Linked DNA regions of Homo sapiens. The protein of the gene in region 2 purifies or fractionates together with the protein of the main gene of each other region. This does not show direct contact. Each region holds a gene or a part of one and is shown on either strand. Other genes may lie near its edges.

Region 1 (3,314 bases), on a different chromosome or scaffold from region 2:
AAAAAAACTAAAACACAGAGTGACCTTTTCTATAGGATTTGAACAAATGGTTCTGACCATCTGACTGCTCATCAACTTCTGAGGTTCCTCTGTTCTAATGATTCTACTGAATCACAGAATCATTAGAATGAGTCTATGAATAGCCTATGATTGTATTATCCATCCCATTATCAAGCTCCTAATTAGGTATGGACTATATTCATCTAACCACAGAAATCGTCATTACAGACAAATGTTCATTTCTCTAACTTTTCTAGAATAAATCTCAGCTTTTATAATGATACCCAGATATCCTAAATTTTACCATATGATAAATTCCATTTAGAAACTATTTTCCCCCCATAAAGCAACATTCTTCTGTATAATACTAATCTTTCCTTACTTTCCACTTAATTTTAGTAATGTTCAGCACAGAACCTGATACACAGTAAAGGCACTCAAGTGACTGCTGAATCTGAGTAACAGTAAACTCAATCCTCAAAGATTTAAAAATCAAAGTGTCAGACAAAAATTTAACTTTTTATGAGATTTCAGTTTTTGAAATACACAACTCTTACAGCACAAACACAGTATTTACATTTCAAGTTCTTTGTACAAAAGATGTATGCCATTTTGGAAGAATATTGTTGAGATCATGATCTAAAATACCTGTCAGAGTTACTCATGGAATCTGCTCTTCACAAATCCATTGTATTATGACATAAAATATGGCTAGACGCCAAGGTTTAACCATACATAAAAATACTAATTCTCGGCTGGGTGCACTGGCTTATGCCTGTAATCTCAGCACTTTGGGAGGCAGAGGCAGGTGGATCACCTGAGGTCAGGAGTTCAAGATAAGCCTGACCAATATGGTGGAACCCCCGTCTCTACTAAAAATACAAAAATTAGCAGGGTGTGGTGGCATGCACCTGTAGTCCCAGCTACTCAGAAGGCTGAGACAGAACTGCTTGAACCCGGGAGGCGGAGGTTGCAGTGAGCTGAGATTGCGCCACTGCACTCCAGCCTGGGCAACAGAGAGAGACTCTGTCTCAAAAACAACAACAACAACAACAACAAAAACTAATTCTCAGTGATTGGCAAATGATGGCCTGAGGGTCACATCTGGCTGGTGGGCAGTTTTTGTACAGCTGCAAGCTAAACATGGTTTTTACATTTTTAGAGGGTTGTTTGAAAAAAAACAAACTAAACAACAGCAAGAAGAATGTATGACAAAGACACAGGTGGCCTGCAATAATTTACTAACCAGCCTTTTACAAAGAAAGTTTGCTGGCCTCTGTTCTATCAAAAACCAACTGAGAGAGATAGCTACTGGAATATACCAATGAGTATTAAACAAGACACCACTGTAATGTGCCAGTGCCATCAGCACTACTCATTTCTAAAATGAGGCACTTCTGTTTGAATATGTACATTTCCAAAACATAATTACATCTGGTAAGTAGTACTAACTCTAGCCCTTTGAAATTAGACCTGCACGTGAAATCATAGCATTCTTAGGGGCTGAAGTCAATAATTACAAAGCATTTCAGATGTCAATCATTGAGCTCTTCAGTAGTTAGTGGTTTAAGACCATTTACAGTCTTAAATATTAATAAAACTCATAATTTAGGTATTGTCAATAAGAGGTGATATTGCTGCATTATTTAAATAACATCTATAAAAATAGGTTTAGACATCCCAATTCGTTATACTCAGAAGCAAGAATAACTAGTTAACTTAGTAACTACTTAAAAATGGGAAATGAAAAAAAAAAAGTGCAAAACTTTAGCAAAAGGCTTTGGAATGCAAAGACTGGAGCCTCTTAGCAATCACTCCCAGCTGGCATAGGCTTCTCCTAATAAAGTTAGTCTGCAATGATTGCTGTGGGAAATTAACAGCTGTCTCTTGTCAGTGAGCCTTTTTATAAAAAGGATGACAGGTCCATGAGCAAATTCTTTAAAAGTAAAATCAGTTCAGAGCTGCTCAACACACAAGTTTTCAGTGGGTTGGTTAAATAATTCCTGGTCAGTGGGCTATATTCATGCCACAAAACAGCATGGTACTGGATATTTTCCTTCTTCGGGCCAAACTGCTAAGCATCACATCACAAAGACATCTCTGTGAAGCTGAGTTTTAAAATGCTCAGTAAATGCTGAGGTAGATGGTTTTCAAATGAAGATCTTCTATACTCTGATTCGATTGGGACTAGCTTCTTTGTGTATCCTCCTTCTGGGAAATATCTTCCGCTTAAGTGCAATTAACTAAATGATGAAAGACAGAAAATACATTTTAATTCTCACGTTGATGAAAGAATATAAGTGCATCAAACTTTCTAAGAGCCATATGACCTTAATCATTTCCACAATCTTATACATTAAAAAGACAACAAACAAATCTCCATCATTCCTCTTCCAAAACAAAAACAAATATTAGTTTTGTTTAGCTTTGTAGGGACAGTATGCCTAGATATGTGCCCACAAAGAGACCCAAGAGGATTAAAATTATTTCGGCCCATGCTTCATTTTTCTAAGACCTACAACTACAGATTTTTACACAGCTATTACCAAAGCATATTTATTTTCAAGATGTCCATTTGTCAAGTCTTTCTATTGAAGGAAACTGGCTCTATTTAGCCATAAGACACTGTCTCTGGGTTGATATGATGGCTTATTCCTTCATCTGTAGGAGGAGGCAGGGCTTTGCCCAAACATAAGACACCACGGTTTGAATGATGAGCTGGAATTTGGGAGGGGAGGAAGAGGCAGCATTGGCTGCTTTGTTTGTGAAGGTGGCAGGTATGGCAGGAGGAAGGAGTTTGACTCCAGTAGAGAGCAGAGTGTTGGGATTTAACCTGCCCTTCCCTTCCCTCTTCCTGCCTCTCTAGTTCCCTATTCTCTACTGGTATAGATAGACTGGTATAGATAGAGGAAAGACTGCCTCTCTAGTTCCCTATTCTCTACTGGTATAGATAGAGGAAAGACTGACACTCCTCTTCCTTTCCATTAATGGCTGCTCCTTTGAGTCAGGGCTCCTTTCCTTCCCCATCCTAGGTCAGCACAGCAGACTCAAAGGTTTCTCACTGGACCCTGTTCTAAAAGCAGGTACAGCCTTTCTGAGATTTTTCATAAGACTTTTACCTGCCAGGAACAATGGTAACAGACATCAAGAACAAGATGTACAATCCCTGGAAAGCAGATGAAGGTTAAGTTGCTGTCCTGTTCACCTGCCCAGTCTCTGTTTCCTGAATTTCCTTCCATTTACAGCAAGAAGCCCATTCATTTATCCTGAAGCTCTCAGTACTTAGGTGCTTGTCCTTCTTGGTATAAGTCAAC
Region 2 (3,833 bases):
TTGGGAACAGGATCAGCCTCTTCTCTTACCCCCATCTCTGTCTCATTCTGTAAACCATAGCAGTTTAATACCCGGAGGAAGCAGAGCAGTCCACATCAAAAGGCAGCTACACCAAGCGGGGCAGTGTTTTCATAAAAAAGCATTTCTGGCAGTGGTGGTGCCTGTAGCACTGTGGTCAAGGAGTCCAGAGCAAAGAACCTAAGTGGACCTTTCCTGAGCATGTGTGACATGCAGTCTTGGGGAATCAGAAGCAACTGGAGAGGACGGGGGTAGAGTGGCTAGTCCACAGTGAGCAGGCAGGAGGCTCTGTACGGTTCAGATGCAGAGATTCCTGTGAATATCATCACATTAGTATTGATGTACTGGTTTGCATATACTTAAAAGTAGTATTGGTTTAAAACTGATAGTATAAACAGCAATCTGTTCAATATAGTGGGAGAAAACTTTTCTGTATGCTGCAGAGTGCTTTGTGGCATGGTAGAAAATCTCACCTGAAAATAATTTACATCCTGGGCTCCGATAAATATTCCAATACTAATTTATACCATCTTTTTAAACCATAATAATAATTTATATATCAGTTCTGCTTTTATCTCTAAAACAAGAGTGGTGATATTTGGCACTACATGGGCTTACAAATTGCCTAGAGAACAGATGCTACATATGTTGTTTTAATTCATTTTTGAAAGTTAAAATTTGCTCTTACCAAGTTTTTATATAAGATTGAGGTTTTGGTGCTAAAAGAGCTAGAAGTCCTAAAGGGGTATTGATATTTCATCTACACGAAATACCAACAGCTGATGAAGAACTTAAAGTGGATTAGGAATTCAAGTTTCCTCTGTATATTGAACAGGTTTTGTGCCACCTCAGTCTTTCATCACAACATCTGTTTCTCGTTAGCAAATGCAAGCTGTTGTTTCCAGTGCTCTAGGAAGTTCATAAGCAGTCTGAGGCAAACTTTGCAGACTTATAATCACACTTGCTGCTCCACATTCTTTGGAACCAGAAAAGTTTGGTCATCTTTTTCAGGCAGCAAAAAAAGCAAATGGGTTTTATTTATAAAAACAAAAAGTGAAAATTCATGCAATAAAGAATGCTGTTATTAAAATATGGGAGAATATGGACCCTGAATTACTCATTGAATTTGCTAATTGCTATCTTCTCCACTGCACTTTATCATTGTAAATTAATCAGAATGTGATCAGCAATAGCTGCCTGGATCTGTTCTTCTGCCTCATCTGTTGTAGTAATTGCTTTCACAGGTGCAAAGTGGAAAGCAGGCATCCTCTTGACAACTTGGAGACCAAAGCACTACCACTAAAAAGTAGGAATAAAGGAGAATTGGCCTTTCCTTTCTATACAGAGAACCAGAACATATTCCCTGGGATAACTATTCCACTAACCTCTCTTACTTTGTCTTTGGGCACAGAAAAATGCCATGGTTAAGCAAAGCCTAATATAAAATTAGACAGTTCATTTTACTGAACTCACTCATGAATTCTATTGATTAAATAATTGATTCTCAATTTTACCTCCTGTGGAACACTTGTGTTCATTGAATATTAAAATATTAAAAATATTACCGAATAAAAGATTTCCTTAGTCAAGCAGGTCTTGAAAAGACTAAACAAATTCCCCCAACACATGACTTTTCAGATCCTTAGACGTGGCAATTTCCATTGAGAATCTCCACACATACATCATTTTTAAAACTTACTATTCAAATTTCATTTTTAGACATCATTGTTTGATGGAAAGAATCTCTATTAATTTGCAGATTTGCAATATTTAACAAATGTATATCCTCAGTTTTCCTACTGTAAAGGGGGTATTTAAAAAGATTTTGTAAGTTTATTGTAAGAAATGAAAGAATTCTGTGAGGTGCCTGGTACTCAAAACATGGAACTTATTGCTTGTTTCCTTATTAGTATTATTTACAGCATAATACGAAATCACATGTTATGAAACACTGACTCATATTCAGTTTCCCATGACTACTTAGTTCACCATAAGACAGTGTCAAGCCATAAAGTTTATTGTGCTATAAGGCCATTTTCCTCTTTGGATGTGCCTTTATCATTAAAGATTTCTTTAGAGGCCAGAAAGTTTAGCCTAATCCTCATATACTTCCAAAGAAGGGGGCCTGGCTTCGGAAAATATACACTAGTCACAAAGGCCAAGTACATTCATCTGTATGTTTTACTTTAACCAAATAATTCCTTGGTACTCTAAATTCAACTATACTTTGAGTTTTATTCTAGAATCATCACAACTGTAATTTTAGTGGTTCATGAGTCTGCTTTTTGCTATTAGCTTGGATAACCAAGAGTTAACCACCTCTAAAATTAAATGGCATTCCTTTAAATTTAAATGAATTAGACCATGGTGCTTCTCTTGGTCCCAGGATAAATGCCATGGAAATTAAAGAAAATAGTTCTAATGTCATGAAACAGCAAAGGTCACATAGGGTGAGATGATTGCTCTCATCATTATTAACATTGCTTTGCATTTAGATAGCCCCTTTCCTTTGCCAGACTCATTCTCATTCCATCCCATTGCTTAGCCTCCGAGCAGCTTGTGGAGCTCCTGATGACATCAAGGGTGATCGTGATGTGGAAGAGATACTGAGAGTCAAGAGGGCAGTAAGCAATTAATCTTTAGGCTTTATTTGCTCACTCTGATCTTCTTTTTGCAAACAACCTCCAAAAAAATGGGTTAAATAATACCCATCTAAATATAAAGTCTCTCCCGGGACTTCAGCGTTATTTGGATTTTATTAATATTTGTGTTATTAAAATACAAATTTAGTGTTTTTTAAATACAAATTTTAAAATTGTAACTGTGTGTGTGTGTGTGTGTGTGTGTGTGTGTGTGTGTGTGTGTGTTTATGGGTGTATGTGTTTATGAATATATGTCTGGAAAGTTTGGGTGTTTGTTGCCTAAGCCAGATAGTACCTAAAGTGCTAATGTGTGTAAGAAAAAATACAAACAAAACACAAATATAATTGAAAATAGAGGAGGAGACTTCCTCCCTTTTTCTGACAGCATTTACTTTAGAAAACTTGTAATTAGAAGTACTTTCTCCTCTCTTTGAAGTGTGTATTAATCCTTTTGAAAACTAGATAGGATTCTTGTAAGCTTTGTGACCCAGGAATGTCTTTCTCAAGGATCTGAGAGTCATCTCTTTGAAATGTAAACATCAAGGGAGATGGTAGCCTTATGTCCCTGTTTCTGCGCTTAGGGTAGGAGCCTAATTTTGATGTGAGCCTTGCTCCAAATTGCAAAATTACCTCCTGTCATAAAGATATGAGAAGTTACTTTTTCCTCTGGATAAAACAAATCAGCTAACACAGATGGTCACCCTACTTACCAGGTAAAGTGAGGATTCATATGTGTGACAAATGGTCCTGTCAAGTCCTCTTACTTGAGGACTAGTTATTGTCTATATTGAAAACATATGTAATGAGTTGTCTCTGCTTGGCTATATATAAGGGCGAGGTTTCTTTCTGTTTTTGTAATCTCTTACTGATTACCTGTGATGTGAATCACATTCTGGTTTAATGCTTATTTAATGATAAAAGTGTTTTTATTTCTCTACTACCTAGGCAGAGAGGATTTCTAGGTTGGGAGAAGATTTTGTTTTTAGTTATATTTCCACAACAAATAATTGTGCTTTTAATTGGAATAATTGGCTCAAGAAAATGATAGAATACACTATCAGTTGTTCTTAACCATAAATGTACATTAGATTCATCTGCAGGGTTTAAGATACAGATTCCCAAGACCACATTCAGAGATTCTAACATCACTTATTTGAGGTGAAACAAGTTGAG

What was found.
Region 1: the proteins of ZPLD1 (region 2) and GNPTAB purify together in Homo sapiens (affinity purification with mass spectrometry; 2 studies listed by BioGRID and IntAct, with this or other methods). This does not show direct contact.

What each region holds. Positions count from the first base shown.
Region 1 is NC_000012.12:101,744,999-101,748,312, forward strand, and holds the end of GNPTAB (N-acetylglucosamine-1-phosphotransferase subunits alpha/beta precursor), read right to left. Parts: intron 2,244-3,314; coding exon 2,166-2,243; 3' UTR 501-2,165; downstream 1-500. UniProt on the Homo sapiens protein: Catalyzes the formation of mannose 6-phosphate (M6P) markers on high mannose type oligosaccharides in the Golgi apparatus.
Region 2 is NC_000003.12:102,441,372-102,445,204, reverse strand, and holds part of ZPLD1 (zona pellucida-like domain-containing protein 1 isoform 2 precursor), read right to left. Parts: intron 1-3,833. UniProt on the Homo sapiens protein: Glycoprotein which is a component of the gelatinous extracellular matrix in the cupulae of the vestibular organ.